Linked DNA regions of Homo sapiens. The protein of the gene in region 4 interacts with the protein of the main gene of each other region in a pairwise test. Each region holds a gene or a part of one and is shown on either strand. Other genes may lie near its edges.

Evidence for each region.
Region 1: the proteins of PXMP2 (region 4) and ATAD1 come close enough for resonance energy transfer, tested with the Homo sapiens proteins (one large-scale study listed by BioGRID).
Region 2: the proteins of PXMP2 (region 4) and ACBD5 come close enough for resonance energy transfer, tested with the Homo sapiens proteins (one large-scale study listed by BioGRID).
Region 3: the proteins of PXMP2 (region 4) and PEX3 come close enough for resonance energy transfer, tested with the Homo sapiens proteins (one large-scale study listed by BioGRID).
Region 5: the proteins of PXMP2 (region 4) and ABCD1 come close enough for resonance energy transfer, tested with the Homo sapiens proteins (one large-scale study listed by BioGRID).
Region 6: the proteins of PXMP2 (region 4) and PEX26 come close enough for resonance energy transfer, tested with the Homo sapiens proteins (one large-scale study listed by BioGRID).
Region 7: the proteins of PXMP2 (region 4) and SLC25A17 come close enough for resonance energy transfer, tested with the Homo sapiens proteins (one large-scale study listed by BioGRID).

Annotation. Positions count from the first base shown.
Region 1 is NC_000010.11:87,787,227-87,790,726, forward strand, and holds part of ATAD1 (outer mitochondrial transmembrane helix translocase), read right to left. Parts: intron 3,205-3,500; coding exon 3,084-3,204; intron 1,904-3,083; exon of another isoform or gene 1,839-1,903; coding exon of another isoform or gene 1,814-1,838; intron 1-1,813. UniProt on the Homo sapiens protein: Outer mitochondrial translocase required to remove mislocalized tail-anchored transmembrane proteins on mitochondria.
Region 2 is NC_000010.11:27,209,798-27,213,297, forward strand, and holds part of ACBD5 (acyl-CoA-binding domain-containing protein 5), read right to left. Parts: intron 1,285-3,500; coding exon 1,017-1,284; intron 1-1,016. UniProt on the Homo sapiens protein: Acyl-CoA binding protein which acts as the peroxisome receptor for pexophagy but is dispensable for aggrephagy and nonselective autophagy. Binds medium- and long-chain acyl-CoA esters.
Region 3 is NC_000006.12:143,449,547-143,453,604, reverse strand, and holds the start of PEX3 (peroxisomal biogenesis factor 3), read right to left. Parts: upstream 2,801-4,058; 5' UTR 2,563-2,800; coding exon 2,490-2,562; intron 1-2,489. Other genes in the region: ADAT2 (tRNA-specific adenosine deaminase 2), read left to right, coding at 2,947-3,042. UniProt on the Homo sapiens protein: Involved in peroxisome biosynthesis and integrity. Assembles membrane vesicles before the matrix proteins are translocated. As a docking factor for PEX19, is necessary for the import of peroxisomal membrane proteins in the peroxisomes.
Region 4 is NC_000012.12:132,701,087-132,704,586, reverse strand, and holds part of PXMP2 (peroxisomal membrane protein 2), read right to left. Parts: intron 3,338-3,500; coding exon 3,218-3,337; intron 1-3,217. UniProt on the Homo sapiens protein: Seems to be involved in pore-forming activity and may contribute to the unspecific permeability of the peroxisomal membrane.
Region 5 is NC_000023.11:153,738,356-153,741,855, reverse strand, and holds part of ABCD1 (ATP-binding cassette sub-family D member 1), read right to left. Parts: exon of another isoform or gene 3,278-3,500; intron 1,765-3,277; coding exon 1,619-1,764; intron 1,283-1,618; coding exon 1,137-1,282; intron 1-1,136. UniProt on the Homo sapiens protein: ATP-dependent transporter of the ATP-binding cassette (ABC) family involved in the transport of very long chain fatty acid (VLCFA)-CoA from the cytosol to the peroxisome lumen.
Region 6 is NC_000022.11:18,101,990-18,105,896, forward strand, and holds the end of PEX26 (peroxisome assembly protein 26), read left to right. Parts: 3' UTR 1-3,407; downstream 3,408-3,907. UniProt on the Homo sapiens protein: Peroxisomal docking factor that anchors PEX1 and PEX6 to peroxisome membranes. PEX26 is therefore required for the formation of the PEX1-PEX6 AAA ATPase complex, a complex that mediates the extraction of the PEX5 receptor from peroxisomal membrane.
Region 7 is NC_000022.11:40,774,347-40,777,846, forward strand, and holds part of SLC25A17 (peroxisomal membrane protein PMP34), read right to left. Parts: intron 3,028-3,500; coding exon 2,882-3,027; intron 2,790-2,881; coding exon 2,694-2,789; intron 1-2,693.

The DNA.
Region 1 (3,500 bases), on a different chromosome or scaffold from region 4:
TTATCTTAAGCTTTATAGAGGCTTAAAAATTTAAACTCCTTTTTAAGACGGATGTTTTTGGTAATGGCTTTACTTAGTAAGTGCTATATGCAAATAAAAGATTTAGGAAGAGGATGGGCACAGTGGTTCACACCTGTAATCTCAACACTTTGGGATGCTGAGGCAGGAGGATAACGAGCCCAGGAATTCAAGACCAACCTGGGCCACAAAGTGAGACCCTGTCTCTACAAAAAATTAAAACATTAGGCAGGCATGGTGGTACATGCCTTGCAGTTCCAGCTACTCAGGACCCAGAGGCAGGAGGATCATTTGAGCCCAGGAGGCTGCAGCAGTGGGCTATGGTTACACACTCCAGCCTGGTGACAGTAAGACTCTGTCTCCAAAAAAAAGGATAAGAACAAAAAAAGTATTGGGATACACAAATCTAAATTTGAGATAATCCTCATTTGTGACAAATATTCCACCTTATTAGTGACTATTTTTCTTTTTTGGACAACTGTTTATTGGCTTTAACATAAAATTTGTCCAAATGGTGCAAAAATACACATCTATATAAATTAAATCTACTTAAATATAAAGTACTTGAGAAGAATATGGGTCTTTATAACAGAAAATCTATTTTTAAAATTATTTTTTTCCTTAGGTTACTCACAATTTAAAGAATGCACCAAAACATGAAGTATAACATTCACAAATGTAATAAAATTTATATACCAAAATAACAATACAGAATTCAGAAAGTTTACAGAGGAAGCCATATGGTATTCAGATGGATTTTGTTGGAATTTTAACTGTTGTAAATTTTTAGACGTTTGAGGGAAAAAAATCACTTTTTAAATATAACCGTCAATATCTTATGTGTGCCCCCATTTCCCTGTCACCAATTAGCGGCATCATGGTGTGCATTAGCTTCAACTTTGTATCTATACACAATAGTTACATATGACCTCATGCACTGCATGGATACTGCAGTCACTCTCCAATTATCTTTTTGTAGTCTGTGTGAAGCAGTGATCACTTTCAGCTCAGATAGCAATAAACTGTCTAAGGATAACATAAAATTGTCAATAACTCTAACCTAGGTAACCTAGTTCCAGTCCCAAAATGGAACAAACAAGGATGCATCTGATTTTACACTCTGCTTCTATACACCAATATCCAATTTATATTGAGGGTCAAAAAGTAAATTAATGATCTTCAAAACTGTTATTCTTGATTAAAAATTGTCCAGACATAAAGGTGAAAAAGTTCAAATAGCAAAACTTTATATAATCAGAAAATATTCATGTAACTTTTAAATTGGACAATGCTTTCAAATAAGAAGCAAATTTACATATAACTTTTGAAGTATTCCCTGCATAATTTGGTATCCACTCTGCTAAATGGGTCTTTAAACCAAGTCCAACTGGAGAAATCACCCAATTACCTGGTCTAAGATAACACTGATAAAAAAAGAAGCTTTCTCCAACAGCATATAAAAGGTATTTTACTTTCCTAAATTCACTAGCATTGTCCAATTGAGAACTAAAAATGCAGAAAAGTCATTTTTTGTTCAGACTACAAATAACCTGGAAGAGGGTAGTAAAGACTTAACTAATCCAACTATAGCCATACATTTTTGATCTGGGCTCAAATAATCATTCAAAGTTTTTTTTGCGGCAGGGGGGAAATCACAATAAACTGAGTGTTTTGTTAGGAAAAACTATAAGCAGTGTTGTTATTTCAGAAAACAAAAAGAAATACCTAATAGCTTTGTTGTTTTAATAATAAAAGAACATGTCATTTTTGCTGTTAACTGTCATCCTCCACTTACCAGAAACAAAAATTATGTAGTTCATAAAAATGCACAGGTACAGGCTTCAGTTACCTTTGATATGTAAATTAATGCACTTTATTGATATAGCTGCAAATTTAGAAAGATTATAAGCATTATAATTTAAACATACATAATGCTATTTTGATATTTTTAAAGATCCACTTTTTTGAAAAATCAATGTGACTAATAATTTAAGTCTTGACTAACAACATATCAAACCCATATAGTTTTGGCAATGCATTAGATAAGAGTTTCTGCTAGATGAAAATAAGCTATCTCGTGAAATTTGGATCTGAACGCCATAGTAACACACACATATATCTCTCACTGTAAATTATTTACACTCCATCTGAATCACCTTTAACAAGCCTTAAGCATGACAGAAATATGTGCACTAGCTGGGCACAATGGCTCATGCCTGTAATCCCAGCACTCTAGGAGGCCAACGCAGGTGAAGAACTTGAACTCAGGAGTTCAAGACCAGCCTGAGCAACATGGTGAAACACCATCATTACCAAAAATATAAAAAAAGAGCCAGGCGTGGTGGCACATGCCTGTGGTCCCAGCTACTCAGGAGGCTCAGGTGGGAGGATCACTTGAGCCTGGGAGGCGGAAGTTGCAGTGAGCCAAGATCATGCCACTGCATTTCAACTTGGGTGACACAGTGAGACCCCATCTCAAAAAGAAAAGAAAAGAGAGAAAAGAAAAAAAAAGAAAGATTTGAATGAACAAGAATTACACTTAATGATGCAGTTATGAGCATATTCAATTCTTGAGTTCCAAGACTTTCAAAGTGATTTTGAATAAGCAAACATCTCCATCAAAGTTAAATATTTAATTTCTAGTTCATCTGCAGATAAATATTTCCTGAAAAAGAATCATTACATTCTAAAAATAAGATCGTTGGAGCTGTGAAACAAGAAAAAAATGTCTTGGCTTGAAAACAAAACAAAACAAAACAAAAAACTTGTATTATGACTTTGAATCTTTCTTTAATCTTGATTTTCCAAATTTTAATTTACTTGGAAGTAAGAGAAAAGAAATTGAAGGAGATTATTTTAACAAGTATTTTAACATGTAAATACAGGAAAAAGTTTATCTCAATTTCAGAAGCTGAAGAATGAGCAATTATTTTAAGAAACTGTTCACATAGATCTCAGCATCCTCTTGAGAATCTGATTTCACAAAAACTAGTTCTACAATGGCAGAAAGTTTCAATGTTTTCTAGGATTTTAATGCTTTAGGCGAATATATACCTTTACCATACCTTTTGGAGGCTGCAGAAGCCTGGAATTCTCAAACAAATGTTTCTTTTTGATAGGTAAGATGACTGTGTCTTTCAGATCCGTAATGACATCATCTAAACCTGCTATATCACTCCAAGTAACCTGGCAAAAGTTAAGGTCAACATGAATTTTACTACAAATGTACACTCACTAAAGTAAAAAGAACGCTCCCAAAATTACAAATGTTAATCTGATGATTATACATAAATAAGTTAAAATCATATATTAACATAAGTAAAGACTTTTCCAAGCAGTAATGAAATAAACTGCTATGAAACTGGAAAAAGGAATTTAATAGTCAACTATCTACTATTAAAAATCTGTAAGTCAGGTACTCAAAAATCTGCAAGGGTCTAATAAGCTAAATTCATTCCACTTGTAAGGAGAAAATACTCTGC
Region 2 (3,500 bases), on a different chromosome or scaffold from region 4:
TGAACACTTATCTGCCTCATTAAATTTTATTCCAAAAACACTTAAATGGTTACATAAATTCCCTAGTTAGGTTATGAAATAATTCACTCAACCATTCTCCACTTTTGGATAGGTAGGATGAGTTCAAATTTTTTCTGTTACAAACAAAATTGCAGTGAATGGTTTTGTATGTAAATACTCGTCCAAATTTCCCCTGATCTCTTTAAGACAGATTCCAAAAAGAATCATTACTGGATTAAAGGATAACAACTGGGTCAAGGTTCCCAAGCTATTTATCAGAAGGCTGAAACAGTGTTATATTGCAGAGTATAAAAGATACTATTGTGTTACCCTAGCCTTGTAGGAATGGAATATTACAAAATTTTACATTTGCTAATATAATGGGCAAGTTTTGTTTTGAATAATAAATAGGAAATTGTCTAGCTCATTGCCCTTTAGCATCCTGGACCTCCACTGCAGCAGAATTCCCATAGCTGAACCTGCATCAAGCATTGTTGGGGATTAAAAGGGAAACCGAATTAGAGCTATTTGCCAAGTTAAACCCCAAAGAGGGCACTGAGGTGCCTGATGCTGTTTTCAAGACTTCTATTGTTGTATCTAAAGGAGGTAAATTTTGAGATCAGTCTGGGCAACATAGTGAGATGCCCATCTCTACAGAAAAACTTTTTAAATTAGTCAGGCGGCCGGGCACAGCTCACGCCTGTAATCCCAGCACTTTGGGAGGCCGAGGTGGGTGGATCACCTGAGATCAGGAGTTCGAGACCAGCCTGGCCAACATGGTAAAACCCCATCTCTACTAAAAATACAAAAATTAGCCAGGCATGGTGGTGGGTGCCTATAATCCCAGCTACTCAGGAGGCTGAGGCAGGAGAATCACTTGAACCCGGGAGGCAGAGGTTGCAGTGAGCCGAGATTGCACCACCGCACACCAGCCTGGGCGACAGAGCGCGAGACTCCATCTCAAAAATAAGTAAGTAAATCAATAAAGGTGAGGGAAGAAAAAAGGTAATCCACACCTCTTCCTCTTCTAACATTAGAGAATTCGTCAGTTTCTCCGCCTCGCTTCTCCCGGTGTGGTGCTCCGCTGTTATTCCTGCCATCTTCTCCTCCATGCTTGACTTCACCTTTTCCTTCAACTGCAACCACCTGCATATTCCCAATGTTGCCATTTCCAGGAGGTACTTGAATATCTTCACGAAATCCAGAATTTTCCATGGGTTGACTGGAATGACCACCCAAGTAATACTGAAATGGTCCATTGTTGGACGTAAAGCTGTCTAAAGACTACAAATTAGAAATGACACTTAGTTAAAAGCTAGAAATGTGAATTATACACCACAAAGTTTTTACAGCAATAGGAGAAATACTGTTTTCCTAAAATGTTCTTTCATGTTATTATTGGAAATATTCTTTTTCTAAAAAATGTCTTCAATTCATATGCTGCTTCCTACCTGCAGGGAAGAAATAGGACAAGAATGATTTGTCCATGAACAGAGTCAAGAAGCTTGGGTAGTAAATTGTTTTGTTTGTTTGTTTGTTTTTGAGATGGAGTCTCGCTCTGTCACCAGGCTGGAGTTCACTGGCACGATCTCGGCTCACTGCAACCTCCACCTCCCGGGTTCAAGCAATTCTCCTTCCTCAGCCTCCCGAGTAGCTGGGATTACAGGCACGCACCGCCATGCCTGGTTAATTTTTGTATTTTTAGGAAAGATGGGGTTTCACCATGTTGGCCAGGATGGTCTCAATCTCCTGGCCTCATGATCCGCCCACCTCGGCCTCCCAAACTGCTGGGATTACAGGAGTGAGACCCCACGCCCGCCCAGTGAGTTGTTTTTGTGAGTCAGTTATTAAAGAAACATCTACATTTCTATGCTTACCTTATTCTTAGAGATTACTACCTAAATTTTTTTTTAAGTCAAAGCAAGCTTATTTAGAAAGTAAAGGAATAAAGAATGGCTACTGTGTAGGCAGAACCTAAATGTGTTTTTAAAAGAACCCACCTAAGACATCGATGGATGACAACCTATAATTAACTGGACTTGATGAAGGTGGTGATGAGGTGAGTTGTATCTTATCTAAGGTTTCCTTCAGGAAGGGACATCTGAGTTAGGGTATAAAGGGTATATAAGAGTCCTCAGTGAAGAGGGAGGATGTACAAGTGGGGGTGGGGGTAGGAAGGGACTTGACACATTAGAGAAACAGAGAGAAGGCCAGGGTGGGTGGTGAGCAACGACCAAATAGGAGAGTGGTGTTAACAGAGGCCAGCAAGGGGCCGGCATGGTGGCTCACACCTGTAATCCCAGCAGTTTGGGAGGCCAGGGTAGGCAGATCACTTGAGGCTAGGAGTATGGGACCAGCCTGGCCAACATGACGAGACCCCGTCTTTACTAAAAATACAAAAATTAGCCAGTCAGGGCGGCACATGCCTGTAGTCCCAGCTACTTGGAAGGCTGAGGCACAAGAATCACTTGAACCCAGGAGGTGGAGGTTGCAGTGAGCCCAGATTGTGCCACTGCACTCCAGAAGCCAGGTCAGACAGCCCCTTGAGCTTTAGTCCATCAACTGATTGAGAGAGAAAACAGGAACAAAACTAGAATGTAGCAGCTGGATATTTACTGAGATTAATCTCTATCTGGTCCCTTTCATCAACCTTCCCCAAATATCTCTTTTTTAAAAAGAAAAAAATAAAAGGGAATCTGAGTTTTTCATCCTTTTCATTTTTCACTAATTTCACTCATTCTCAGTTTGGCCTCCTTATCATTATTCTTCCAATTTATGCTGCTTTTTTTTTTTTTTTTTGAGACAAGTTCTGGCTTTATAGCCCAGGCTGGAGTGCAGTGGTGCGATCTTGGCTCATTGCAACCACTGCCTCCCAGGCTCAAGCCATCCTCCCTGAGTAGCTACCATGCCTGGCTAAGTTTTTTATTTTTTTGTAGAGACGGGGTTTTGCCATGTTGCTCACGCGGCTCTGAAACTTGTGAGCTCAAGTGATCCACCTGCCTCGGCCTCCCACAGTGTTGGGATTATAGGTGTCAGCCACCATGACCAGCCTACGCCACTCCATTTGTGTTTGACCTTAAGTAAAAGATATTTTATTCATGTGTTTTTAAAATTTGAGAAAAGGGGTAGATTTAATTGCATTATGAAATGAGAAAAGGAGAAAAACACAAAAAGTTAAAATCATTTCAGGGAGGCAAAAGATAAATGATTTTCTATAAGACACACTGAACTGTATTAGAACAGGGTAGGTAGGTAGGAAACAGAATGGGGAGAGGATATAAAGAGGCCAAACAGAAATATAGCTGTCAAAACCACCTTTGTCAGATTAATAAGTAGAATACATAAGGAGCGTAAACAACTCAATAGGAAAAAAATCTAATAACCTGATTAAAACTGGGCAAAAGATCTGAATAGACATTTCTCAAAAGACCTACAAATGGCCAACAGGTATATGAAAAGGTGCTCAACATCACTGATCATCAGCGAAATGCAAATCAAAA
Region 3 (4,058 bases), on a different chromosome or scaffold from region 4:
GCTAGCAAAGGAGAAAACAAGGCTGCAGTGAGCTACGATCACACCATTGTATTCTAGCGTGGGTAACAGAGCAAGATCCTGTCTGAAAAACAAAAAAACAAAAAAACACAAAACCCGAACACACCCAAACCCCCCAAACTGGTCAAATTATACAAACGCGTAAACCAATTAGTTACCCACCCAAAATCTGAGGAAACAGAAATTGTTACTTAAGAAGGCCTGCTACTCAAGGTTTTACTTACTTACTTCCCCCACTATTGAATGCCCAAACTTCTCTGCGCATGCCTGTTGATATACTACCCAGCTTTCAAGCCTGTCAAAATGTGTCTCTTCTTCCATGAAATTCTTCCTGATTTTTCACAACTGCATATGCTACTTGCCAGTGTGATCTGTACAGCATTTTTTCACCTCTCTTGTTTTTCTGTATCTTAATTACATGTATACTTGCTTTTCCTTCCTATCAGACTATAAAGGCCATGAAAGCACAGTGATATAATATGGAAATAGAATGTGCTTTGTGGTCCAACACACCTGGGTTTGAATTCCAGTTCCCCTTCACTAATTCTGAGACCTGAGGCAAGTTTCTTAAATTCTTAGGGTTCTTGCTGCCACATTTTTGAATGGGGATAATAATAATTGTCTTCTTGTCATTCTGCTTAAATAGGAAGAGCTTAGCACAATGCCCAGCGTAAAGTGGGCACCCAATAAATAGTAGCTGTTACTATTAAAAATATATAAATCTTGTATTTCCATTTATATTACCTTCAGCATTACAGGCACTTGATAGGTATTTCTTAAGTTAGACTAATTAAAATCTAACACACTGTAGAACTTTCTCCCTGAAGCAGAAAGAACATGAGACTCAAACAAATGCCAACCACGGTCATCTACTCTTCCTTTCTTTTCAGACTGACTCCTTTTTTGATATAAAACACTAGGATTATTTTCTCTTTCTGGCCGTCTGAACTTTTCTATTTTTTGCATTCCTCTTATTCTGTAACTATAAAGCTCTTGTTAGTTTTTTAAAAAAATTATAAGTTTAAGTATACTCTTTTGCTTCCCCTGTGATTATTTCTAATCTACTACAAAGTTGTTCCATAAGCTGAAGGAGTATTCCTTCTGAGATCGCTAAAGAGATAATTTTCCTTCCTTCAGTAAACGCAAAAATACTTTATTTGTATTTCTTCAATCACACATATATTTTTAGCTTTTATAAATAAAATGGACTCTGTAGTCTTAGGATAATTTAAATATACATTAGATACTAGCGACTGAAGATATCAGAAAATACCTTTTATATATAAAGGATTTCTCGAAGGTGTTCAAAATTTACATATGCTTATTATTGATGTGTGATAGACCTCAGAGACATGCAAAACACCATCCTTGGCTCAGCAACAAGAACTCTGTTTCAAACTTTCAAGCATCACCAAAATCTGAACTATTGATGCTAAAGGTATTAATTGCAAATTGTTTGGGGAGAACAGAATACAATCTAATACGTACTGTTAATTTCAAATTGTTTGGGGAGAACAGAATACAATCTAATACTAAGAGAAAAGCCAACCAAATTCTTTGGGAAACTCTGTTCTTGATTTTAAGTACTTTTGTAAACATAGCATGTAATAAGTGATGAGACTATTTCTCAAAAACTCAAGTTCTAACAAATTTCCTCTTTTATAGTTCCTAGATGTCCTTTTCATATAATTCACAAAACTTTTATTCCCTCCTTCAAATCCCTGAATATTATCACATGAGCATTGTATGAGGGAAAAGCGTCTCAAGATTTTTATCTTATCTGTTTCTAAATCTCCTCTGGGCCTGTGCAACTCAGTTATGTCAGCTAGATTACAATGATCCCAACCTTGAAGATCCTGAGGAAGATTGCACAACATCCCTCAAGCATTTTTCTTACTGCCATAGTTTGTATTCTAAAATGGCAGAAACAGAGCTAAAATATTGATTTGTTTTTCTTTATCTAATCCATATCTTTCAGTCCTTTAGGACAACTGCGCTGTTTTCAAAAATTCAAATCGACTTTAACCACCACCCGAAGTGCAGCCTATAGGTAACTTCCCTAGATTATTATTAAACTCCTGAGAAGGGTGAGAGCCAAAGTATCAAGAGTGCCAAGGAGAAATGCAGAATCTCACAGGAAAGCAGAATTTTTTTTAAAAAGTTCCTGTAAGAGAATGGTGCCTTGAAACAGAAACTTAAACTGTGATGAGTTCTCCAAAGGTCCGTGAGAAAAAAGGATAGGTGAGAAACAGAGTTAAGAGTCGGTGACAGGGCAAAGGGCACAGAGGCATTTCTCAACTGCAGAGATGGGAGAACCCTGGAGGTTGGCCACCTCCCTTTTCATCCCATGGTTGATCGAACTCCCTCTACATATCCCAGACTAGGATCGCCCGGCCTGTCCTTATTTTAGAAGAAGTCACCTCTCCCACCCCCTTCTCCCAATGCCCCCTTTCAAGCACGTTGTCACCCACCTCCAAGGACCGTGCCCAGGAAGATGCATTTCTTTTTGTGGCGTTTCAGAAAATTCCATACAGACCTCAGCATCTTTAGGCCCTAGGGGTGTGGGCTGACTAGGGGTGAGGGACTGCTTCACCAGGAAACTGTTTCTTCGTCACCTGGCCCAGATGACCCAGCAAGAGCGCCGTCGTCCCGTTCTGTGCTCTCCCGAAATCACAAACGTGACTTTCCGCAGAGACTGTCACCGGAGCGGCAAGGGGGCGTGGACTACAGCAAAGCAGCTACGCTTTCTGCCGCTGCCGCCGCGCAGCCGCCGCCGCTCACTGGTCCGACAAGCCCAGGTCCGTTCAGAAATAGCTCCCGAGTGCCTTTTCATTAGACTACCCCCGGAAACGGGGTCCCGGGCCCGCCGCGTTCCGCTGCCCGCGCTCCTCCTCTGCCGCGGGCTCTGTAGCTGAGTGGTGGCTGGGTATGGAGGCGAAGGCGGCACCCAAGCCAGCTGCAAGCGGCGCGTGCTCGGTGTCGGCAGAGGAGACCGAAAAGTGGATGGAGGAGGCGATGCACATGGTGAGGAGCCCGGGAGGTAGATGCTGCGGGGTGGGACCTTTCTCCAGCCCTCAACCCGACCCCGGCATTTGAGCAAACGTTCTTTCTCGTCACCATAATTTTTATGGCAGTCAGATGTTCTGGGTGAACAACTGGCTTTACTGCCTCGAAACTTTCTGTAGCCCATTCTCACAGTGGCTCTGGGCGAAGGAAGGGGAGGAAATACACAAATTATTTGTTTCATTGCGGTGGAGTATGCTGCAGACTTAACATTCTGTCGCCGGCTGGCACGTGCTGCCTCCCTTTCCTTTCTGTGGTCACACACTCTCCAATCTACAAAGTCACATTATTTGAGGTTTTGGCCCTTGGAACATGTCCAGCAGAAGGAAGGAAACTGAGAACGTTTCTGGTAGAGAGCAGTATGGAAACAAGTCCCTGTACAATCGGCGTCTCGCATTCATTCATTATTTCCTCTGCCCTTTTACTTCCTTCCCTCACTCCCTTCAGGACTGCGAAATAAAGGGGGCTTTCAACAGAATGCTGTGTGCTAGCGAGCTTCTTAACTGGGAAAAAAAGTTTGTTTGTAAATATATGTATTTACATTTTAATAACTACATACAGCCACGTGCCACACAATGACCTGTCGGTAAAGGTCGTTATCCTGGAGCATTAAATCTACTCACCTTAGCCCTATTGTCCCATCCAAGTACTAACCAGGCCTGACCCTGCTTAGCTTCCGAGATCGGGGGACATTCAGGGTGGTATGGAGGTAGACAACCCTAGTTTCTATGTAGACTTCTGGGCTAAACACTTTCGCTACCTTTTAGGTTGACCCTGGGCTAGCACATGTAAATACATTTACATACGTTTACAAACAAACTTTTATCCCAGTTAAGAAGCTCGCTAGCACTTTTCAGCTCCATTATAATCTTATAGGACCACATATACAGCGGTGGTGCTATAGGATTATAATGAAGCTGAAAAGTTCCTGTTGCCCAGTGACATGTAGCCCTCCTAACAAGTACTTTTTTTCCTTT
Region 4 (3,500 bases):
CAGCGGGAGGCCGTGGCCAGTTATCCAGCCTCAGTCACCCAGTTCATTTGTTTACCCGTTTGTTGGTCAGCTGGTCCAACCACCCATCCATTACTGCATTTACTGAGCCTTTGTTCGTACCAAACGCTGTGCTAGGCCCCTAGCAGAGAGGAGTGGAGAAGAAAAACGGTCCCCTAGTTACAGTGTTCACAGGCTACAGCGGCCCAGGAATCCCAAAGCCAAGTCACTCTCCTTTTGCCCCCTTCACCGCACACCTTAGCTCCTGGTTCAGCCTCTCTCACTCCAGGACCAGCCATCATGCAGGTGGCTGCACCCTCCTCAGGGGACACAGCTGACGAACAGCGGAGGGGCCCCAGACCTTCCCTCCTCTAACCCATCACCATCCCACTGCCCTGCTTTGGTGACTCAGCAGCTTCACCCTTCCCCAGAATCCTCTGGCCCAGTGCTGAGTCTCTCCCTGGCACGTGGTGCTATGAAAGTAGCAGCCCATGTGTCTGGTTAATCGCCGCGTCTCCGAGTCTAGCAGCATGGCGCACAGTCACTGCTCAGGAAACGCTTGCTGAATGAATGCTGCTTCCGCATACACCTGCACCCACCTAGGATGGCGACTCTGCCCCCACGCTACTCAGAGGCGCGGCTTCCCAGCTCTCCCCTCTTCCATCCCAGATCCTCCGTGTTCCCGGCCAGTCTGTCTTCTCAGTTGTCTCTGCTTCCTTCTCTAAATTCCCGAGAACCAGTGGCCCATGGCTGTAGCTTCCTTAGCCTACTGTTCTTCAGTCACACTCCCTGGAAAATCCTTTATCCTTCCTGCCTTCTCACTTCCCCAGATGCTGACCACAGCTGGACAAGCCCCAGCCCCCTCTGCCCAGAGGTCTTTGTCTCTGCAGTCAGCATGCTCTCCCATCCTCCACATGGCCAAACTTGCCCCTCCTGTATCCCCTTAAAATGCCCGCCTGACTTCCTCTGCCCTCAGTCCCAGCCCCTGGCCCTCCAGAGAGGCACGTGGGGGCTTGAGGCAGGATGTCCCACTCTCCTGTCCGCTCAGCTGTCACTTTCTCTCTCCTCTCTCATCACAGAGGGCAGGGCCTCTGTCCAAGCACCACTGTGAGTGTGCTGGGGGCTCACATCCACCCTGACTCCTTAGGGGACCCCGCAGAGCTGCTCTTTCTGGACATGCGTGTTTGCCCATCCCACAAGCAGCTTCACGTCTGCACCCACCATGGCCGCATCTCTGAGTGTCAGAACCCCCTCTGCCACCCAGCCTTCTTCCATCACTTCTCACCTTCTCTCAAACTTTTTAAAATTCATTTTTATAAAATAGAGATGGGGTCTCACTATGTTGCCCAGACTGGTCTCAAACTCCTGGCTTTGAGTGATCCTTCTGCCTCAGCCTCTCAAAGTTCTGGGATTACAGGCATGAGCCACCATGCCTGGCCCCCACAGACTTTGAGAGCATGTTCTAGACTTGTGATTTTTAAAATAATTCCCACCCACTCTTCAAGGCAATCTGGCTTCAGCCCCATAGAGCTGAAATTGCTCTGGGAAGGGCCACTGTTAAAGCCAAAGGAAATTTTTTTATTTTGCTTTAACTCCTGGCAACTTTGGCTAAGGGTGAACTGCCTCTTTGTCCTGTCTGTGTGCACCCCTGGTTTCCTGCTGCTTCTTGGTGTGTTTGTGGTGTGTGCAGTGTGCACACACTGGGCCGCCTCCCTCCTCTCCCTCGGGGGTCACCCTGGTCCTTTCCTCCCTCCTGGGCAGGGCTCAGAGCCGGTGCTAATGCAGGAAGGCCCTCTGCAGCTGAGGTCCAGCCACTGCAGGCCTGTTCAGGTCCTCCCTAGCAGCAGCCTGGGCTGGGACGGCACCCACCTTTCCCAGAAGGGCCACCTGCCCTGTGCCTGGACTGTTTGCACCAACAATGCAGGCTCCACACAGCTGCTGTCTTTCTAGGGGTCTGGAGCTTTGGGGCAGCAGGCAGAGATGCCCGCCCAGAGTACCAGTAAAAAACCCTGATGGGCGGCATACCTTCTGGGGGAGGGAAGCACGTGGCCCCTGCAGGCTCTGCCAGGCCTCCTCCTGTAGCATCTGGGGGTATCCTGCCATGCTGCAGGGGGTGCTGCACCCCATCCTCCCAGTGTGGGAGTGGTCCTGGGGACCCTGGCTGTGCATAAAGACAGTTGATCCCAGTGGCAGAGCCTGGAGCTCCAGCCTCCACACCACCAGCCCAGCCCCAATCTGACACCTTTGACTCAGCCCCCACAGCAGCTCCTTCATGCACAGGATAGCGGAAAGGCTCAGCTTACCCAGAAGGCCTTCACTCTGCACCTGGATGGGCCCACCCCTTGCCCAGGTGTGGCTGCCATGGCTGCAGGTGAGGCAGCTCTTCCAGGCCAGCGGCAGGACCCATGGCCGCACAGTGCCTGCCTTCAGGCTCAGCTGTAATTCATGAGCCCAGGGACCACGAATGCTTTGTTTCTTTTTAACATTTTATTTATTTTTTGAGACAGGGTCTTACTCTGTTGCCCAGGCTAGAGTGCAGTGGCACAATCTCAGCTCACTCCAACCTCCGTCTCCCGGATTCAAGTGATTCTTGTGCCTCAGCCACCTGAGTAGCTGGGACTACAGGCACCTGCCACCATGCCTGGCTAATTTTTGTATTTTTAGTAGAGATGGGGTTTCGCTATGTTGGCCAGGCTGGTCTCGAACTCCTGGCTTCAAGTGATTTGCCCACCTCAGCCTTCCATAGTGATGGGATTACAGGTGTGAGCTACTGTGACGGCCTTCTTTTTCTAAGTATAACTAGAGTTTATTTGGGCCAAGTTTGAGGACTGCAACCCAGGAGCATAGATTCAAGTTGCCTGCATGTACATTCCTGGGACTGGGAATGTTTCAAAGGCTAGAAAACTCATAGGCATCCCTGGCATGGGGGCTTTTAATGAGAATTTGCTGAACGAACAGAAGAGGCAAAGACGACCACTCGGGACACCCTTCTCTGTTGCTTCCTGAATCCCGAACTAGCAATGATTCAGGGTCATGGGCAAAATCCAAGGGTAGTTGAGGAGTCTAGACACGGATGAAACTAAGTCTAGCGGAAAACTACCAAAGAAAGAAGAGAAGAGAAAAGAAGAGGGGAGGGAGGGGGGGAGGAAAGAGGAAGGAAGGAAGGAAGGAAAAGGCTGACAAAGTAATGTTAGCAGAGGCTGAGCCCCGTGGCCCTCACCTTCAGAGGGACGTAGTTGATGTTGATGAACTGTAGTGGCGTCCACACCCGCCAGTTCATCCTCAGCGCCGGCCAGAAGCCCCCCCTCATCTTGGCGGCGAAGGCTGAGGCGTCTTTCCCCTGCAAAGGAGGGAAGGCGGGTGGTGAACAGTCTCACTGCCCATCAGAACTGAATTCCGGGCACCCAGACCCTATCGTGATGGTTTTTAAACTGCTATTGGATTTTGTTCTGTGTGTACGCAGACAGCACACATGTGTACTCAGCACTGCGGCTCTAAGGAGC
Region 5 (3,500 bases), on a different chromosome or scaffold from region 4:
TAACAGCTCAGTAGGATAAACTCACAGATGATCTTAGCCACTATTGCGGGGAGGCCCGTTCTGTTCCTCGCAGCTCAACTCCATCCTAATGGCTCATGCTGGCCGGCCACAGGCCCTGGGCATTCAGGCTGCCACAGAGGCGGGAGGGGCCACGTGCTCCCAGGCTGAGGGCAGCAGGAGCAAGAGGCAGGGCCGGGCCAGGGGCTGCTCCACTGCCATTGCCACCTGTGTCCCCGCTTCCTCCACAGGCAGGTGACAACACCCCGGCCATTTCCTGCAGGAGCCACTTCTTCTCATGTTGCCACCGAGGGAGGGCTTGGTGCCCGTGCCCTTGAACCGTGAAGGGGAGCCCCAGCAAGGCGAGGTCCTTGCCCAGGGCCATCTCGCACCCAGCAGTGCAGGCTGGAAGCAGAACCCAGAGGCTCAGAATTCAAAGACAGAACTGAACACTCCATCTACTGTGTCCCTGTAGCTGCAGCCCCCTCTCCTCCTCCGCTCTTCCGGCCCGACAGACACTGTGGACAAGCAGTATTCCTTGATAAGCCCAGGACAAGACAACAGCTCAGTCTGGCCTCCTTTTCAGTGAACTCATCTCTGAATCCACCTGACTCTGCTGGCCCCAGCCCCCTCCAAGCGTCTGCACAAACCTCTTGACAGTAGCCATCACTGCACACATGTGCCTGCCCCTCCCAGGCTGCCCCTGCCCACCACCCCATGGTCCTTCCAAGAGCGTCTGATCCTGCTCAGGGAAAGCCTAGGCTCCCGCCTGGTCCCGAGGGCCCTCTGTGAGCCAGCCTCTCGCACCACCAAGCCTTCGGAACGCACTCCGCCCTGCTGCCCCTGGCTTCCGGACGGGGTAACCACTCAGCATTCTGCAGGGCTCAGCTCAGACCTCTTTTCTCTGGGAGAGGGTATCCTGGGTCCCCCAGTGAGGTGCACATCCCTGCTAGGTGCCCCCTTCCCTAGAGCACCTGGGGCCATCTGTGTGGTGTTGGTCCTCCCTGGTAGCAGCCTCTGCCCCGCCCCGTGGCACCTGGCACTTTAGACTCTGGATGTTGAGGTAATCTTCACTCCCTGGAGGCCAAGGGAGAGGCCAGGGTGGGACAAAGGGTGGCTGCCAGCCCCAGGCCTCCTACCTCCCTCCCGCTGCAGGATGTGGTGCAGGTGCACGACGTCCAGGATGGCTTCCAGGTCCTGCTCCGAGTAGCCCTTCCTTTGCATGTCCTCCACTGAGTCCGGGTAGATCACCTGGTCACGCAGGGAGCCCACAGACATGTAGGGCCTGTGGGAAAGCTGGGTGTCCACGGAGGGAAGGGCCGGCTCTGCCTCCCCCAAGATACTCTGCGCCTCCCAGGCAGTGTCCACATGCCACGCTCACACGCATCCACACGCTCACATCGCCGCCCGTGCACACACCCCACACAGATCCAAAACAGGGCAGTGGATCGGGCGGGTTTGGAGGGAGCAGGAACCACAGCCCGTCTCTGGCTCTGGGGACAGTGCCTCAGTGTCCTCTCCTGAGGTGCTGACTCTTCACCACTTCCTGGGCCTCTGCAGGAAGCCATGTGTGAGCGCACAGGCAGGAAGAGGTGGAGGAGAGGCGCACGGGCTTCCTTACCTCTGCGGGATGTAGAACATGCGCTGGGGTGGGGGCTTGTAGAGCACACCACCGTACGTGGGCCAGAGCCCACCCAGGATCCGGAACAGGGAGCTCTTGCCGCAGCCATTGGGGCCTGTGATGAGCAGATGCATGCCTTCCTCCACCTGCAGGGGCAACAGCCGCTGACGCCAGAGAGCGCAGGCCCCTTCCCGTACCCTATGGCCTCCTGACCAGCCTTGAGAGGCTCCCAATGCCCGAGGCCAGCACGCAGGCCATTCTTGATCTCTTGATAAGGGACAGCAGGGCCTGGGGGATGGGGTCCAGCGTCCACAGCCCTAGCTAAATTTGGCTCTCGCTAAATGCCTGGCCCAGGACACAGGAATGGACAAGCCCCGGCCCAGTCCTCAGGCCCTGACACGCCTGGAGAACATGGTGCCAGCACAAGAGGAAGGGCCTATTCTGCCACAGCTGAATGAGTAGGTGTGTTCCAACACAGCCAGCGCCGTCCTCAGTCCCATCCGACTCCCACTTCACCAGGAATCCAAGTGCAGGGTCAACTGTCAGCCCCCTTTAAGGAACTGCCCTGAAAGGCACTTTGTTTTCAAGAGACGAGACCTCACTCTGTTGCCCAGGCTGGAGTGCAGCGGTATGATCACAGCTCACCGCAGTCTCCAACTCCTGGGCTCAAGTGATCCTCCCACCTCAGCCTCCTGAGTAGCTGGGCCTACAGATGCACGCCACCATGCCTGGCTAATTTTTAAATGTTGTTTTAGAGACAGGGTCTTGCTATGTTACTCAGGCTGGTCTCAAACTCTTGGCCTCAAGCGACTCTCTCACCTTGGCCTCCTGAGTCACTGGGGACAAAAGGCAGTTTCTTTCTTTTCTTTTTGAGACGGGGCCTTGCTCTGTTGCCCAGGCTGGAGTGCAGTGGTGGGATCATGGCTCACTGCAGGCTCAACCTCCTGGGCTCAAGAGACCCTCTCACTTTAGCCTTTTTTTTCAAGTGGCTAGAACTACAGGCACCGCCACCACACTTGGCTTATTTGTGTATTTTTAAAAATTTCTGTAGAGACGGGGTTTGCCATGTTGCCCAGGCTGGTCTTGAACTCCTGGGCTTAAGCGATCTGCCCACCTCGGCCTCCCAAAGTGCTGGGATGACAGGCATGAGCGACCACGCCCGGCCCAAAAAGCACTTTCTTTATGTCTCTAGACTGACAGTACAGACCCCACTGCCTCCCCAGGTGCCAGAGTGGCCCAGAGATGCCACAGTGGCCCCTGGGCTCTGCATCATGGACCTCAGGCTCCTCAATTCACTGACTCCATGGTCCTCGCTGGAGCTAGGAAATGCCTACTTTGGGAAAATGCCGGCCAGGCTGGAGGCGGGCTGTGTGCAGGGAGGAGGCCAGGGGCCTGGAGTCAGTGAAGTTCACGGTAACAACAACAATGCTACACGGGGCTCCTGGGAAGACTTGAGGCCGTGGTCTTTAGCTTACCTCAGGCAGTGTCATGGGTGGAACTCTGTCCTCTGAAATTCCTATGTGGGAACCCTAATCCCCACTACCTCGGAGTGTGAGCTTATTTGGAAACAGGGTCATTGCGGACGTGATGAGTTAGGTCTGCATGAGGTCATTCTGCAGAGGGGTGGGCCCTAATGCAGTGTGACCTGTGTCCTGACAGAAAGGGGAGACGGAGACACGGACACACCCAGAGGGAGAGCGCCGTGTGGAGACAGAGGCTGAGGCCGACCTGCCGTGGCAGAAGCCAGGGAAGCCCGCAGATGGGCAGCAGAGCAGAAGCTGGGACAGAGGCCCCGAGCGGAGGCACCTTCTCGGTCCTTGGCAGAAGCCCGCCCTGCCTGCGCCTTCCTCTCGGACTGCTATTCCCCGAGCCGGGAGAGAGG
Region 6 (3,907 bases), on a different chromosome or scaffold from region 4:
CAGGTATGGAGATGTCAGTGTCTAACTTTCTTCTAGTCTTTGCAATTTCACAAGGAAAATCACTAAAATGTGCGTCTCTTCATTTAAAAGAAAAAAAAGTTCATGCCAAAGCTGCTGGGACAAAGAGGACTCATGATAGTGGGTTATTCCACACTGTTGACACACTGAATGTATGCTGGCAGAAGGGCCTCAGGTGGAATGCTGGGCATGGGTTTGCCCCACAGCAGTCTGATTCAAAAGCACCTGAGAGATGGGAGGAGTACTAGGGTTACTAAACACAAGAAGGTGTTTCAGGAGAAACACATCAAGCCATTTGTTTTTGACCCTTAATACTTAACATGAATGATGAGTTGCAGAACAGTCAGTCTTTCCAAGATGTATTGTTCTATCCTCAATAGCTGCAGCCTCTCCAAGCCAGTGGGCTGGTGACATCCAGGATGATCCTCTTCCTTGCCTGGAGGTGGGATCTAGTGCCACAGCTTGTTCGGGGAAGCTGGCATAGAAGATGATTTGCTCAACAAAGTCACCGCTAAACTATCGCTTAGGTCTAGTCCCCGGCCTATGGCACCAAGTACTCCTGGTAGTACTTGTACACAGAATTTCTCTATAATAACCAGAACATGTCATCCATGGTAATGTCTGCTACATATCCAACCACAGCATCAAATTCTGTCTGATGAAGGGCACCAGCCCCTTCATCTTTATCATGCCTAATATTGTGAAGGCCATGTGCTAAATCCAGCAATCCGCTCCAGTAGGTGTCCTTCAGGATACTTTTCTGTCAAGTAAATACATTTATTAAAAATAGGCATGTAGCCGGGCGCAGTGGCTCACACCTGTAATCGCAGTACTTTAGGAGGCTGAGGCGGGCGAATCACGAGGTCAGGAGTTCGAGACCAGCCTGGCCAACACGGTGAAACCCCATCTCTACTAAAAATACAAAAAATTAGCTGGGCATGGTGGCGTGTGCCTGTAATCCCAGATACTCAGGAGGCTGAGGCAGGAGAATTGCTTGAACCCAGGAGGCAGAGGTGGCAGTGAGCCGAGATCGTGCGATCGTGCTATTGCACTCCAGCCTGGGCGACAGTGTGCGACTGCATCTCAAAAAAAAAAAAAAAAAAAAGGCATGTAAAAGTTAATCTCATGGAGGTAGAGAGTAGAATGACAATTACTAGAGGCTGGGCAGGGTGTGTATGTGGGATGAAGAGGTGGCTTGATGGACACAAACATAGATAGAAGGAGTGAGTTCTAATGCTTGATAGCAGAATAGGGTGACCATTGTTAACACTGTATTGGGTGTTTCAAAATAGACGGAATAAAGGATTTGAAATGTTCTCAACACATAGAAATGAGAAATACTCAAGGTCATGGGTATCCTGGATACCCTGAGTTGATCACTACACATTCTATGCATGTAATGAAATGTCACATCTACTTCAATAATATGTACAAATATTATTTATCAAAAAGCAGGCATGTAGGTGAGTTGATTTTCTTCCATGTCTTCAAACTCCTGGTAATACTTGTCCACAAAATTTCTCTATAATAACCGGAACATGTCATCCATGATAATGTGTACTATATATCCAACCACAACATCAAATTCTGTATCAGAGGCAGAAGAGAAGGACAGCATGAAGCTCGATTCCTCCAACTGTCCTTTGGCTGGTGGCCCTCCACCCTGCCCACAGCCCGGCCAGCTCAGCCCCGTCTCTGTCCCATACAGAGCCACAGCCACAGTGAGAGCCTGGCAGCCTGCCCGGAGGAGGCTTCTTGGCCCAGCCCGGTCAACACCCACATGCACCACCACCAACTTTTTGCTATTGTGAATAACATAGCTGTAAACAGATTGCATATGAAAGTGCTGTGAAATCACCAAGGGCTGAGTAGAACAGTTAAGACGATAGTAGTTGTTTTCTTTCTGGGTTTTTCTCTTGGGCTGGTTTTTGAAAGTGGATCTACAACATTGATAGAGATCAGTTTTTCTGCTCTTCCAACATACTGCCAGGACGTGGTCCAGAAAGATTGGGTACTTTGCAATACTCATAGCAATATGTGAAGTGATTGGAAAAAATGAGACTATTCAACCAGTTGTTTCAGTGTTGGTTAGGAGGAAAATGCCCAGAAAGGGGAACAGTTAATCATCTACACAATACCAAGAGCAGGAGGGGATGACCGACGGCTTCATCTTTCCTAGTCTATCCCACACAGACCTTTAGGTGCTCTTTTTTTTCTTTTTTTCGCTCTGTCGCCCATGCTGGAGTGCAATGGCGCGATCTCGGCTCACCACAACTTCCACCTCCCAGGTTCAAGCGATTCTCCTGCCTTAGCCTCCTGAGTAGCTGGGATTACAGGCATGCACCACCACGCCTGGCTAATTTTTGTATTTTTAGTAGAGACGGGGTTTCTCCATGTTGGTCTGGCTGGTCTCGAACTCCCAACCTCAGGTGGTCCACCTGCCTCAGCCTTCCAAAGCGTTGGGATTACAGGCATGAGCCATCGCACCCGCCTCTTTAGGTGTTCTTTTAGGAGCTGGTAGCGGAGGAAGGTGGTTACCCATCTGTGACAGAGCCTTGGATGTCACGAGGCCACAGGCTGGCCTTTCCTCCTGTTTACAGGAGGTGAGTTTTCCTGAGTTCCCAGCCTCAGTGTTCTCTGCACAGTCTGTCACTGACTCCCGCTCCCAGTGCTCACTGCCTCTTGTTCTCACTGCCTCCTGTTCTCACTGCCTCCTGTTTCTGCTGAGTTCTTTGCATCTGCCTGATGTTGGTTTAAAGCTCCACCCCTCCCAGGGGAATTTGTCCCATGATTCACCTCCTCTTTGGTGATCTCTTGATTGCGGCTGCTGCAGCCATGTAAACCTTAAAGGCGAGCCAATTTGTTTGTGATCCAGTGGCCAAAATGGTTCACCCTCAACTTCCCTTAATCCCCTGCAGCATCTGAGACACATGGGTGAATGTATGTAAGGTACTTGGGGCTAACCAAAGTTAAATACATATGACAAGTACCTGAATCTAGATAATCTAATGGTAAGATATCGTTTGCTCTCTGGACTTCATGGGCTCACCCCAGCAATGGGGTGCCTGGAAATGAAGAGATCTTTCTTGTGTCTCATCCTCTGGGCTCCCAGCCTCCCTCAACATCATGACCTCCATCTGTAACACCCACCATCCTGGAGCAGCATCCTGGATATTGGAACTCTGAAGTCTAACCTAAGAGAACAAGGACAAGCCTCTCTATGAAAGGTTTGCCCTTCCAGATCCAGTTGAGCTCTGCTCTGGAGCCAGACTCTCTGAAGCATAGCCCAGCTCTAGCTCTTACCAGTTATGTGATCAGGAATGAGAGTTAATGTTTCTATGTTTCTGATTCTTCATTTGTAAAATGAGGATAATAAAAATTTAACTTCAGAGGTTTGTTGTGAGGAATAAAAGCCATTAGCACAGTGTTTGGCATATAGAAAGTGCTCAGTGTTGGGGAATATTGAACAGATAATGAATATCGCCAAGAGTCTTTTCCTGGGTGATTGATAGAAATTATCTTACCTCCTGCTCTAATGAATGTGGCTCAACTATTTAGGCCATAACTGTAATTATATTTGGTTATATGGCCCCACAGCATTAAAATTCATACAAGAAGAACTTCACTCACACATAGTAACTGGAATGCAGTAGATGTGGATAATTTCTTTAAAAAGCCTAAATCATATGGGTGGTTGTTTTTTCATAAACAGCCTAGGCTTAACTTCAGTTTCTCATCTACAAAAAGGGGACTGTACTAGGGTTCTCCAGAGAAACAGAACCAATAGGTGGTATCTTGAGAGTTATAAGGAATTGGCTCATGCAATTATAGGGGCTGGGAAACCCAGGACCTGCAGTGGTTATGCTGGAGACCCAGAAGAGCTGAAGAT
Region 7 (3,500 bases), on a different chromosome or scaffold from region 4:
CCGAGTAGTTGGGATTATAGACATGTACCACCACGCCCGGCTAATTTTTGTATTTTTAGCAGAGATGTGGTTTCACCATGTTGGCCAGGCTGGTCTCGAATTCCTGACCTCAAATGATCCACCCACCTCGGCCTCCCGAAGTTCTGGGATTACAGGCATGAGCCACCATGTCCGGCCTAAGAAAAATTTTTCAATGAAGCAAGCATAATAATTTTCATTTTATAGAGAGGTATAGGGAAAATTCTACCTCAAAAGAAAAAAATATGCCCAGGATGATGATTTAGATATTGATGGTAATAACTTCCACTTCTTTAAGAAATTCTGAGAAATGAATCATTTAGAACATCTGCAGTCTAAGCTCTTCAGATTATGTGTTTACATTATAAAAGTGTTAAAATACATTTATAAGGATGCTACTGAATTCCCTTATGTTAAGTACCAATTTTAAAATAATATATTAGTAAAAATGCTTTTAACAGAAGGTACTAATTTTTCTGAACTGGAATATTCTCACTACCACCCCTATTTTATCTAGCAACAAGCCTTTTGAAATTTTTCTCCAAAACAGATCTTGAATCTGTCCTCATCCTACCCCTCTCCTCTCCAGTGCCACCACCGTGGTCCAGGCCACCATCCTCTCTTGCCTGTATTACTGAAATGGCCTCCTACTAGATTGCCCCTGGCTTTCTCTCTTAGCTTTCTGACCAATTCACCACATAATAGCCACAACAGTCTTCTTCAATTGTAAATCACAGCACATATTCCCCAGCTTAAAGCCCTTCCCATCACATATTCTCAGCTTAAAGTGCTGAGGATAAAAATCTACATTCCTCACCTACAGTTTCCCTGCTGCTCTTGCAATCTCACCCTGAGCCACTCTACTGCCATAGAGGCCTTCTTTCAGTCCCTAGGATACACCAAATTCTTAGTACATTGATATGGTTTGGCTGTGTCCCCATCCAAATCTCACCTTGAATTGTAATAATCCCCACAAGTCAAGGGCAGGGCCAGGTGGAGATAACTAAATCATGGGGGTGGTTTCCCCTATACTGTTCTTGTGGTAGTGAATAAGTCTCATGAGATCTGATGGTTTTTTTTTTTTTTTTTTTTTTTTTTTTTTTTTTTTTTGAGACGGAGTCTCGCTCTGTCGCCCAGGCCGGACTGCGGACTGCAGTGGCGCAATCTCGGCTCACTGCAAGCTCCGCTTCCCGGGTTCACGCCATTCTCCTGCCTCAGCCTCCCGAGTAGCTGGGACTACAGGCGCCCGCCACCGCGCCCGGCTAATTTTTTGTATTTTTAGTAGAGACGGGGTTTCACCTTGTTAGCCAGGATGGTCTCGATCTCCTGACCTCATGATCCACCCGCCTCGGCCTCCCAAAGTGCTGGGATTACAGGCGTGAGCCACCGCGCCCAACCGATCTGATGGTTTTATAGGAGGAGTTCCCCCTGCACTTGTCCTTGCTGCCGCCATGTGAAGAAGGACATGTTTGCTTCCCCTTCCACCATGATTGTAAGTTTCCTGAGGCCCCCCAGCCATGCTGAAATGTGAGTCAATTAAACCTCTTTCCTTTATAAATTACCCAGTCTCAGGCAGTCCTTTAGAGCAGCATGAGAATGGACTAACACACACATCATGCTCCCCCTGCCTGGAATGCACTTTCGTCCACTCTGCCCCACTAGGGCCTTACCCTCCTTTGCATCTTGATTTAAATATTCCTTCTCAAAGAAGCCCACCTCCAATCATGCTATCTAAGAAGAGCCCCACCATGCCCCTCTCCAGTAAATAATTTCCTTTATAGTTCTTTTTTCAATTTGTAATTACCTATTTATTTTGCTTGTTTACCTGTTCATTCTCTCTTCCACTAGCTCCATAAGGGCAGGGATTATGACTTTTATTTACCACTGCATGCCCAGGTCCTCCCACAGTGTGGATGCTTAGTAAATATTTGAATGGATAAATAACTGAATGAAATAAAAAACAGAAGTTTGAGAGTGCTTCAAAAAAGCTAAATCATTCATTCCTCCTGAGTGAACTAAAGGAATTAACCTCTGACTTTGTAAAGGATAATCCCTGCTGGGGCACCAAACCAATCAACTTGAATGAGAAGGAAGCAAACTTATGCTTTCCTGAGGTCTTTAAGGAACTTGTCTCCACATCTGTGTTTTCTGAGACATTATGTTACCTAAGAAATTACAAATGCAAACTTCATTCTAAACCAATGACAGCCAGCCTAGTTAAGCAGAATATCAAACAAATGAAAAAATGGGGGCCAGGCACAATGGTTCATGCCTATAATCCCAGCACTTTGGAAGGCCAAGGTGGGAGGATCGCTTGAGTCCAGGACTTTGAGACAAGCCTGGAAAACATGGTGAGACCCCATCTTCACACAAAAAAATTTTAAATTAGCTGGACAAGGTGGTGTATGTAGTCTCAGCTACTTGGGCAGCTGAGGCAGGAGGACTGCTTGAACCTAGGAGGTCGAGGGTATAGAGACCCATGGTGCACCACGGTACTCCAACCTGGGTGACAGAGGGAGATCCTGTCTCAAAAAAAGAAAAGAAAAAAAACAGATAGGGAATATTCTGGTATACCAACTAACTGCTTTATTGCTTTATTAACATTGTTTTAAATCAAGAGACTACATGTATTCGAATGCTGTTTGACTAAATGCGAAGAGAACTCCAGCACTCACCCTCAGAATTGACTGTACCGTCTGCAGGGGATAGGTCACCGTGGTGGCAATCGCTTTGGCTACTGCACCAATGATGAACACATCCAAGGAAGAAAGCTGGAAAGCAAAGGAAGAACAAACCATATCAATCAAGTCAACAAGAAGGTGTCAGACAGAATTATTTTACTGCTTTCAAAATCAAGGATTACCTTCATCCGTTTCTTTAAAAGCTGCCGTTTTAAACCTTCATAAAACATGAACTGGATGGCAGGATTGAAGACCAACAGCAATGAGGGAAATGTGCCATTCCATAAAGCCGAGATTCCTTCATCGCGAATGATCTGATGAAAAGCATCTAAGCAAGAAATCAGGGACTTTTGAAAAGCATGATCACAATCCCCCAACTAGAGAAGACAACATGAATTCTGTTGAAATGTACCCAGAACACAAACCATACTGGTTCTATAAAGATTTCCTTCTTGCAGCCGGTTGCAATGGCTCACGCCTGTAGTCCCAGCACTTTGGGAGGCCGAGGCGGGTGGATCACGAGGTCAGGAGTTTGAGACCAGCCCAGCCAGCATGGTGAAACCCTGTCTCTACTAAAAATACAAAAATTAGCTAGGTGTGGCGGTGCATACCTGTAATCTCAGCTACTTGGGGGGCTGAGGCAGGAGAATTGCTTGAACCCGGGAGGCAGAGGTTGCAGTGAGCCAAGATTGTGCCACTGCACTCCAGCCTGGGTGACAGAGCAAGACTCCATTTCCAAAAAAAAAAAAAAAAAGATTTCTTTCTTGCAATGATAGTTTGGGGTCAAGTTTATCGGTTAAT